2 separate regions of the Homo sapiens genome follow, and region 1 is linked to region 2. The links come from fine-mapping of genetic effects on gene expression. A gene starts in region 2. The other region holds a variant in brackets. All regions are shown on one strand. Distances are between the middles of the regions.

Region 1 (5,369 bases), 80 kb before region 2:
GCATTCCAGCCTGGGCGAAAGTGAGACTCAATCTCAAAAAAAAAAAAAAAGGCTGGGCGCGGTGGCTCACACCTGTAATCCCAGCACTTTGGGAGGCCGAGGCGGGTGGATCACAAGGTCAGGAGATCGAGACCATCCTGGCTAACATGGTGAAACCCCGTCTCTACTAAAAATACAAAAATATTAGCCGGGCGTGGTGGTGGGCACCTGTAGTCGCAGCTACTTGGGAGGCTGAGGCAGGAGAATGGCACGAACCCGGGAGGCAGAGCTTGCAGTGAGCCGAGATCGCGCCACTGCACTCCAGCCTAGGAGACAGAGCAAGACTCCATCTCAAAAAAAAAAAAAAAAGATTGTATATCTGGAGAGTACCCCAGCCTCCAAACAAGAAGAATCTCAGCCTGGTATGGTTGCTCATGCGTGTAATCCCAGCACTTTGGGAGGCTGAGGCGGGCGGATCACTTGAGATCAGGCATTCGAGACTAGCATGGCCAACATGGTAAAACCCCGTCTCTACTAAAAATACAAAAATTAGCTGGGCGTGGTGTTGAGTAGCTGGTGTAATCCTAGCTACTCGGGAGGCTGAGGCAGCAGAATTACGTTAACCCAGGAGGCAGAGGTTGCAGTTGAGTCAAGATTGTATCACTGCACTCCAGCCTGGGTGGCAGAGGAAGATTCTGTACCCCCTCCACGAAAGAAAAGAATCTCTTCACTTTAGTATCTTAGTTGGGAAATGACCTTAATTTGTCAGCATTAAAAGAAGCTTCTTGGCCACGTATGGTGGCCCACACCTGTAATCCTAACACTTCGGGAGGCTGAATCGGATGGATTGCTTGAGTCCAGGAGTTCCAAACCAGCCTGACAACATAGTCAGACCCTGTCTCTACAAAATCTTAAGAATTAACTGAGTATAGTGGCATGTGCCTGTAGTTTCAGCTACTCAGGAGGCTGAGGTATGAGGATTGCTTGAGCCCAGGAAGTCGAGACTGTAGTGAGCCATGATCTTGCCACTGCACTGTAGCCTGGGTGACAAAGTGAGATGCTGTCTCAAAAAACAAAACAAAAAACCCAAAAAACTTCTTTTCCACAGGAACTGAGGTTCGAGATAATTTTAAGAATAGAATAGGTGTTTTTGGCCAGGCATGGTGGCTCGTGCCTATAATCCCAGCACTTTGGGTGGCCGAGGTGGGCGGATCACCTGAGGTCAGGAGTTTAAGACCAGCCTGGCCAACATGGTGAAGCCCCATCTCTACTAAAAATACAAAAATTAGCCGGGCATGGTGGAGGGTGCCTGTAATCCCAGCTACTCAGGAGGCTGAGGCAGGAGAATTGCTTGAACCCTGGAAGCGGAGGTTGCAGTGAGCCAGATTGTGACACTGCACTCCAGCCTGGGCGACAGGAAGACTCTGTCTCAAAAAAAAAAAAAAAAAAATTGGTATTTTTTGCTGGACATGGTGGCTCATGCCTGTAATCCCAGCACGATGGGAGGCTGAGGCGAGCAGATCACTTGAGGTCAGGTGTTCAAGACCAGCCTGGCCAACATGGTGAAACGTCATCTCTACTGAAAATACAAAAATTAGCCGGGTGGGGTGGTGGGCGCCTATAATCTCAGATACTCAGGAGGCTGAGGCAGGAGAATCACTTGAACCCGGGAGGCGGAGGTCACGGTGAGCCAAGGTCATGCCATTGCACTCCAGCCTGGGCAACACAGTGAGACTCCGTCCCCCACTCCAAAAAAAAAGGTGTTTTTTTTTTTTTTTTCTACAAAGAGCTTTGCTGATCTAATTTCTTCCTTTTTTTTGTTGTTGTTGTTGAGAAATGTTGAATAATAGAATAAGTTATATTTATAATTATACATAAATCCAATAAAAATAGTTTTTCAGAAGTATCTTGTAGTTGAACTTATTTGGATGCTCCAATACCTGGACAATTGACAATTGAGTTGAATCATTTTGATACAGGGTTTTTTTTGGTTTGTTTGTTTATTGAAGCTTTTCCTGCTAGTTTGAGATCATAAATAGGCATGCCTCTTTCTGAAGAATATAATAACCTTTTTTTTTTTTGAGATGGAGTTTCACTCTTGTTCCCCAGGCTGGAGTGCAATTGTGTGATCTTGGCTCACCACAACCTCTGCCTCTTGCATTCAAGCGATTCTCCTGCCTTGGCCTCCCAAGTAGCTGGGATTACAGGCATGTGCCACCACGCCTGGCTAATTTTTTTTTTTTTTTTTTTAGTAGAGATGGGTTTTCTCCATGTTGGTCAGGCTGGTCTCAAACTCCCGACGTCAGGTGATCTGCCCGCCTCAGCCTCCCAAACTGCTGGGTTATAGGCGTGAGCCACCGCGCCTGGACTACCTTTTTAATTTTTTTGAGGCGGAGTATTGCTCTGTCACCCAGGTGGGCGTGCAGTGGCGTGATCTTGGCCTACTGTGACGTCTGCCTCCCGGGTTCAAGCGATTCTCTTGCCACAGCCTCCTGAGTAGCTGGGATTACAGGCTTGTGCCACCATGCCCAGCTAATTTTTCTTTTTTTTATTATTATTATTTTTTTTTTTTTCCAGCTAATTTTTCTGTTTTTAGTAGAGACCGGGTTTCACCATGTTGGCCAGGCTGGTCTCGAACTCCTGACCTCAAGTGATCTGCCCGCCTCAGCTCCTGAAAGTGCTGGGATTACAGGTGTGAGTCACTGTACCCAGCCTAGAATATAACAACCTTTTTTTCTTTTTTTTGTGACGGAGTCTTGCTTTGTCATCCAGGCTGGAGTGCAGTGGCGCCATCTTGGCTCACTGCAGCCTCCGCTTCCCAGGTTCCAGTGATTCTCCCGTCTCAGCCTCCCCAGTAGCTGGGATTACAGGCACACACCACCATGTCCAACTAATTTTTGTATTTTTAGTAGAGCCTTGTTGGCCAGGCTGATCTCAAACTCTTGGCCATCTGTTGATCCGCCCACCTCGGCCTCCCAAAGTGCTAGGATTACAGGCGTGAGCCACTGAGCCCAGCTTAACCTTTTTTTGTTATTTCCAAAAGTAATACATATTTAAGGTATAGAAATTCAGAAGCCATAAGTAAGCAAAAAGAAAACACTTAAAGCGAGGGAGAGGGGTTGAAGACAAGTTGGTTAATTGGTACAGAAATAAGGTAGAAGGAATAAATTCTAATATTTGATAGTACAGTAGGGAAATTATAGTTAGAACAATTTATGGTGTATTTCAGAAGAGCTGGAAGAGAATTGTACTGTTCCCAATACAAAGAAAAAGTAAATGGAGCCAGGTGCAGTGGCTCAGGCCTATAATCCCTGC[G/A]CTTTTGGGAGGCTGAGGTGGGAGGATCACTTGAGGCCAGGAGTTCTAGACCAGCCCGGGCAGCATAGTGAGACCTTGTTCCTACAAAAAAATAATTATTCAGGCTTGGTAGCATGTACCTCTAGTCCCAGGTGCTCGGGAGGCTGTGGTATAAAAGGATCCCTTGAGTCCAGGATTCGAGATTGCAGTGAGCTATGATTGGGCCACTGCACTCCAGCGTGGGTCACAGAATGAGACTCTGTCTCTATAAAATAGAAAGAAAAGGTAAATGTTTAAGGTTACAGATATTTCAATTACTGTGATTTGTTTGTTTTGTTTTGTTTTGTTTTGTTCTTTTTGTTTTTTTGAGATGGGAGTCTCTCTCTGTTGCCCAGGCTGGAGTGCAGTGGCCTGATCTCAGCTCACTGCAACTTCTGCCTCCCGGGTTCAAGCGATTCTCCTGCCTCAGCCTCCTGAATAGTTGGGACTATAGGCATGCGCCACCATGCCCGGCCAATTTTTTTGTATGTTTAGTAGAGTTGGGGTTTCACCATGTTGGTCAGGCTGGTCTCGAACTCCCAACCTCAAATGATGGGCCTGCCTCAGCCTCCCAGAGTGCTGGGATTATAGGCATGAGCCACTGGGCCCGTCCAATGACTGTGATTTGGTCATTACACATTATATACATGTATCAAAATATCACACGTACCCCGAAAATATGTACAAGTACGATATGTCAATAAAAACATACACAAAGAAGTCACTTAAAATTATCTTAAACATCAGCATTGTGATATATATTTGTCAATATGTGTATATACACATATACAACTTTACATGCTATATCTAACTTTTTTATTTTTTTATTTATTTTTATTTTTTTTTTTGAGACGGAGTCTCGCTCTGTCTCCCAGACTGGAGTGCAGTGGTGCGATCTCCGCTCAGTGCAAACTCCGCCTCCCGGGTTCACGCCATTCTCCTGCCTCAGCCTCCCGAGTAGCTGGGACTACAGGTGCCCACCACCACGCTGGGCTAATTTTTTGTATTTTTGGTAGAGACGGGGTTTCACCGTGTTAGCCAGGATGGTCTCGATCTCCTGACCTCGTGATTCGCCCGTCTCGGCCTCCCAAAGTGCTGGGATTACAGGCGTGAGCCACTGCGCCCGGCCCTTTTTTATTTGAGACAGAAACACTGCAATCTCCACCTCCCAGGTTCAAGCGATTCTTGTGCCTTAGCCTCCCAAGTAGTTGGGTTTACAGGTGTGCACCAACATGCCCACCTAGTTTTTGTATTTTTAGTAGAGACAGGGTTTCACCATGTTGGCCAGGCTGGTCTCGAACTCCTGGCCTCAAGTGATCCACCTGCGTTAGCCTCCCAAAGTGCTGGGATTACAGGCATGAGCCACCACACCCGTTTCTTAACAACAAAAGAGTGTGAAGTTCTTCCTCACAGAAATATTCATTTTCATTATCACTGACACAGCAGCATAGGATTCCTTGTTTGGATGTGCTGTAACTCAGTCTCCTGTGTATTAGATATCTAGGTGTGGAATCTGGGCTTTAATATACATCACACTTAAGATGCTTTTATGGGGCCCATGTGGCTGGGCACGGTGGCTCACACCTGTAGTCTTAACACCTTGGGAGGCTGAGGTTGGGCAGATTGCCTGAGCTCAGGAGTTTGAGACCAGCCTGGGCAACATTGCAAAACCCCATCTCTACTTAAAATACAAAAAATTAGCTGGGCATGGTGGCACGGGGCCGTCTGTAGTTCCAGCTACTGCGGAGGCTGAGGCAGGAGAATCGCTTGAACCTGGGAGGCGGGCGTTGCAGTTAGCCGAGATCACACCACTGCACTCCAGCCTGGGAGACAAAGCGAGACTCTGTCTCAAAAAAATAAAATAAAATTTTAAAAAATGCTTTTATGGATTTAAAATTGTTTTTTCATTCTCCATGGGAGTTAAAAAGTAGAAAGTAGAATCATGAGTGGACATGCGTTTTAATAAATTGGAGGTTTGTGTAATTTCAGTAACGTAATAATACCAGCTCTATTAAAAATGAAGAAATGGACCTTTTGTACTGGGAAGTAGTTGTAAG
Region 2 (5,369 bases):
CCTCTCTGTGCCTTTTTTTTTTTTTCTTTTCTTTTCTTTTTTTTTTTTGTTGGAGACGGAGTTTCGCTCTTGTTGCCCAGGCTGGAGTGCAATGGCGCGATCTTGGCTCACTGCAACCTCTGTCTCCTGGGTTCAAGCAATTCTCCTGCCTCAGCCTCCGGAGTAGCTGGGATTACAGGCATGCACCACCATGCCCGGCTAATTTTGTATTTTTAGTAGAGACAGGGTTTCTCCATGTTGGTCAGGCTGGTCTTGAACTCCCGACCTCAGGTGGTCCACAACCTCGGCCTCCCAAAGTGCTGGGATTACAGGCGTTAGCCACCATGCCCAGCCTGGCACAATTTAGCATAAAGTTTTTGAGGTCTTTGTACTATTCCAGTAGGACAGTTGGTGAAACTTGAATAAGATCCGTAAAATACTTGATTACTAACTTGTATCAATGGAAATCTCTTGGTTTATAACTGAATTTTGGTTATACAAGTTTTTTTTTTTTTTTTTTTTTTTTTTTTTTTTTTTTTTTTTTTTTTGAGACACAGTCTCGCTCCGTCGCTCAGGTGTGATCTTGGCTCACTGCATCCTCTGCCTCCTGGGTTCAAGCAATTCTCCTCTCTCAGCCTCCCAAGTGGCTGGGATTATAGGTGCCTGCTACCACGCCTGACTAATTTTTGTATTTTTAGTAGAGATGGGGTTTCACCATGTTGGCCAGGCTGACCTCAAACTCCTAACTTCAGGTAATCCGCCCACCTTAGCCTCCTAAAGTGTTGGGATTACAGGCATGAGCCACCGCGCCTGGCCGAGACTGTAGATTTTTGCAACTTTTTTGTAAGTCTAAAATAATTTCAGCCAAGCATGGTGGCTCATGCCTGTAATCCCAGCACTTTGGGAGGCTGAGGCAGAGGATCACTTCAGCCCAGGAGTTTGAGACCAGCCTGCAACATAGCAAGACTCCATCTCTGGAAAAAAAAAAAAAAAATTAGAGCCTGTGGTCCCAGCTACTTGAGAGGCTTGAGGTGGGAGGATTGCTTGAGCCCGGGAGTTTGAGGATGCAGTGAGGCATGTTGAGCCACTGCACTCCAGCCTGGGCAACAGAGCACGATCCTGTCTCAAATATAAAATAATTTCTAAATAAACTTTCTTGTTCAAGCTCAGGGTCTGAGTTGTGCACTGCCTATGATCCACTCCACAGAAGTTCTGATTTCTTCTCTGTGCAATGGTTCTGCCGGCCTTTCTGCCGCCCAGAGGTCCTGGTGAGTGGGCATCAGAGACTCCTTAGGGCTCTGTGGAGGCTCAGGGAGGAGCTTTCGCTTCCCTCCTGATGCTGGTGCCTCCAGAGCTAGACAGGAAGATGGAAGCTGGGTGGCCCGAGCAGGGGTGGGGGCTTGGCTGGCCCTCCTGTCAGCTTGAGCTGGCTTGAGCCCAGGCAGGGCCCTGACAGCCTGGGCAGGCTCAGAGGGAGGGAGGTGGGAACCAAGAGACCCGGGGAGGGCTCCCGGGGCCAAGACCCAGGTCCCTGCCCTGCACATCTGCCAAGGGACTTCCTCAGAAGCTGCTGATGTTAGGCTTTGGCTTCCTGCTGTGGACTGAGGGGATGAACTCCGACGGGAGGACATTCAGGCCTTGGAGGAAATGAGAGCTTGGCTGACAGGAGGGCCTGGACTCACGAAGACACTTGGACACCCACAAGCACAGAGACATGGGTGTGTGACAACTGACCAAGGGGCATGCAGGTATGTATGCGTGGTGCACACAGACACCCTGGGCACAGCCCACTGGCACCAGCGTCAACCCCTGCGTGGTGGGCTGCATCCCACCCTTCAGGCAGGCCCTGTGGGGCAGGTTTCAGGGAGGAAGGAGGCTGAGTGGGCAGAGTCTGAGGACGCGGCCACCATCGCTCCCTGGCACTACATCTGTGTCCGGGATCTAGGAGGCAGTCCTCCATCACTGAGCCCCAAGATGACTGTCACAGCTTGGTCTAAAGCAGGGGCCGGGCCTGAGCCCTGGCCCCTGCCCTGGAGGAGCTCACAGAGCCCCCAGCTGGGGCATATCTGGTTTCCGGGGGCAGGGGCGATACCCAGAGGAGGAAGAAGGGATTCTGAGAGAGCCCAACAGGCTCCGAGCCTCAGGCTGGAGCTGAGCTTGGGGCAGCAAGGAAGGACCAGGTGCGAGGGCAGAACCATGCGGCCCGACCCCTGCAGCACGGCCTGTGGCCTCCCCCAGCTCCTGCCCGTGCTTCTGGGTCAGTCTGGACTTTGCCACTTCTGACCAAAAGCCACCGCAAACCCACTCAAGCCAAAAGAGGAAGTGACCGTTAGGCCCAACTGGGAAGGCTGGCGGCCAGGGGCACTCCAGGCAGGGCGAGGGGGGCGGCCGGGGGCGCTCCAGGCGGGGCGAGGGAGACACCCAGAACTCCAGGCAGGAGTCCTCGGGTGCCACCTTTCCTCTCCACCTGGCCCTGCGTGGGCTCTGTCCTCAGGGTGGCCCGCCGTAGTCCCCCTCCCCACTCTGAGTTTCCTGTCCCAAAGTCCTAAGGAAGTTTCCAGAACTACATCTCACCATCTTGAGTCAGCCTTGGCTCAGTGTCCATCTCACAGGCCTGGAAGGGGCAGGAGTCAGCACTGTCCAGACCACAGGGCCTGAGTGTGGGGAGGGCAGCCGTCTAGGAAGGTGGTGGAGGGTTGTTACCTTGAGGCAAGAGGGCTGCGGGGCAGAAAGACACAGCAGGTGACTGTTGTGGGAGGCCCAAGAGAGGCCTGGGAGAGGGATGGCCCACAAGGGCTGACCCTCCCGCCACCCAGGGGGCCTTGGACAGGTTTCCTCCTGGCAGGGTGGCCCTTGTGCATGGAACCCCTACAACGACTAAGGCTGGCAGGCATGAGGTTTCCTGAAGGAGAAAGAGCTTGTGGGGCCCAGTGTGGCTGGGGGGGCGCTGGGACTCCATTCTGAAGCCAAAGGCACTGGGAAGGGCTTCCGCAGAGGAGGGTTTGGCAGGGGTTGCCAGGAACAGCCTGGATGGGGACAGGGAACAGATAAGGTGGGTGGAGGAGTTAGCCGGGAGCCTGGGGCTGGCTCCAGCATGATGTGGGGGTCTGCAAGGCCCTGGAGAAAGTGGGGTGGTGCAGCAGGGGGCACACCCACAGCTGGAGCTGACCCAGATGGACAGCTTGGGCTCTGCCACGCGGGACTAGGCAAGGAAGGGGCACGAACAAGCAGGAAGTGGTGAGGCGGTCTCCAGCTAGCTGCTCTCCCCTGCCCAGACTTTGGTTTCCTCCCTGCTGGCTTGGCCTGGCTCCCTGGCTCTGTGTGGTATGGTCACACCCCCGTGCACCCCCTCCACTGAGATGGGGCGGGGAGAGCACCGAGGCTGCTCTTCCTCTCCTGGGCCGTCCTCTGAGCAGCAGACGGGGCTAAGCGTTCCCCAGCTCGCCTTCACACACAGCCCGTGCCACCACACCGACGGTACCATGAAGGACGAGGTAGCTCTACTGGCTGCTGTCACCCTCCTGGGAGTCCTGCTGCAAGGTGGGCTGGTTCCTATCTAGGAAGAGGGTGGGCCTTAGATCCCTACAGCTTGCCCTCTGCCCCCTAGGCCCAGGTGGAGGGCAGAGGTGGGGACTCCAGCCCAGGCCCAAGCTGGAAGAGGGTGGGGACTTTCAGGGAACTGGGGGGCACCTGGCTGTGAGAGCTGTAGGACTTGGGGGTGGCAAGGGTGCCAGGACAAATGGTAGGATAGCCATGGGCTTGGGGAAGCTGATCTCTGCTCTTTCCAGCTGTCCCCTCTCTGGGCGTCCCAGCAAGCGGCCCCCATTCCCTGGCTCTGCTTCAAAGGCACCTCCATACTGGGACCACGTGGAGCAGGGTAGAGGTGGGACTCCTTCCTCCAGCCCCCTAAAAAGAGCCTGCTTAATGCCTTTCTCAGACTGGCCCTAAAGGACACATTCCTTGGCCAGATATCCTTGCCACCTAAGAGACACCACTACTCCACAGTGTGTGGGCTAGGATAAGGCACAGCCTGGGGAGGGGGCTCTGAAGGGGCTGAACAGACAGGCCAGCCTGACCTCCAGCTGCTCCTGCACTGAGCTGGATGGCCACCCTGTGACACCCATCTGCAGAGGGCCCAGAACCAAAGGTGCCAGGGCTGCAGGACTCAGGGGGAGATGGTCCGACGGGAGGTCTGGGGAGGGAGCGCACAGCCAGCACTGGTCTGTGTGTGGTCTGGCCTGGCCTCACCTGACCAAGAGAAGGGCTCCTGCCCACAGAGAAACTTTAGGGCCAGCCCACCCTCTGCAACTACCCCAGCCCTGGGGTCCTGGGGTTAGGCTAGGAGAGTCCCAGCTGCAACCTCCTGGGAGCAGGAGAGAAGGTGTCTGTCAGATTTAGGCCTGGGACCGGAATGCAGGAACAGAGAAACTGAGGTTTGGAGGCACAGGGACGCAGGCTTTAGTGATCCCGGCCTGAGGCAGGGTCAGAGGGCCCTGCTGGTGGGCGCTGGTAGGTGGGTGACCAGGGACTGTTAGCTACAGGGAGTGTGCTTCCTTGCACCTGGGAGGATGCAGCCAGCTCTGCCCTCAGACTCCCGAGGCACTTCCTGGCCAGGGACCTGAAAGCTGCATTTGCCTGTGTTTTGAGAGTGAAATGATTCAGAAACAAGGACTCAAGTGGTCTCTCTCGCGGAGCAGGTGTCCCTGTGCCTGAATCACTCACCCTCCCCCATACACTCACAGGTTGGGACAGGGCCTCTCTGCGCCCCAGGCTTCAGCCCTGCCCTCCTCGCTGAATGTCAGGGACACAGGGCAGGCCAGGGATGGGTGAGACGAGAGGTCTCCTCGGGCGGGGAGGGGGCGGGGTTCCGCCTTAGGGAGGAGAGGACACGGCCAAGTGAAGGGCCAGATTGCAGGATCCCTCCCACTCCCATCTCTGGGGCTTCGGGTGTCCAGACCTGACTCCCGCTCCCCCTCCTCCCCCAGCCTACTTCTCCCTGCAGGTGATCTCGGCGCGCAGGGCCTTCCGCGTGTCGCCGCCGCTCACCACCGGCCCACCCGAGTTCGAGCGCGTCTACCGAGCCCAGTGAGGCGCGGCGGGAGGGCGCGGGGCGGGGAGCGAGCCCCAGGCGGGTCCGGGTCGCAGGACCATCCCGGCCGGCGCGCTCATCCCACCCGCCCACCGCAGGGTGAACTGCAGCGAGTACTTCCCGCTGTTCCTCGCCACGCTCTGGGTCGCCGGCATCTTCTTTCATGAAGGTCGGGGTGTGGGGCAGGGGCGCACGCGCTGGACCCCCGGGACCCGCGCAGGGCGCTCACCAGGCCCGTGCGTACCTCTCGCAGGGGCGGCGGCCCTGTGCGGCCTGGTCTACCTGTTCGCGCGCCTCCGCT

Which allele goes with the higher level. Positions count from the first base shown, and alleles are read on the strand shown. Sizes are in standard deviations (SD) of each study's normalised expression.
With allele A in place of G in region 1, the expression in monocytes of the gene that starts at base 3,367 in region 2 is lower (large effect, 1.4 SD a copy in BLUEPRINT).

What was found. PIP is the estimated chance that this variant, and not a neighbour inherited with it, causes the effect. A credible set is the group of variants that fine-mapping cannot tell apart.
Region 1: its variant is the best candidate, but not a certain one, in a credible set for the expression of LTC4S in monocytes (BLUEPRINT, PIP 0.51).

The regions. Positions count from the first base shown.
Region 1 is chr5:179,710,376-179,715,744 of GRCh38, forward strand. All of the region lies in intron 7 of CANX (calnexin), which reads left to right. Among named protein-coding and RNA genes, the nearest start is that of CANX, 14 kb to the left of the region's middle. The variant G/A (reference allele first, on the strand shown) is at 3,295.
Region 2 is chr5:179,790,620-179,795,988 of GRCh38, forward strand. It overlaps LTC4S (leukotriene C4 synthase), which reads left to right and starts at 3,367. Exons shown (of 5, transcript NM_145867.2): 1 at 3,367-3,519; 2 at 4,965-5,064; 3 at 5,167-5,237; 4 at 5,322-5,369. The coding sequence starts at 3,462. RefSeq lists enhancers at 2,555-3,182, 2,757-2,836, 2,857-3,006, 4,490-5,162 and silencers at 3,357-3,426, 4,972-5,369.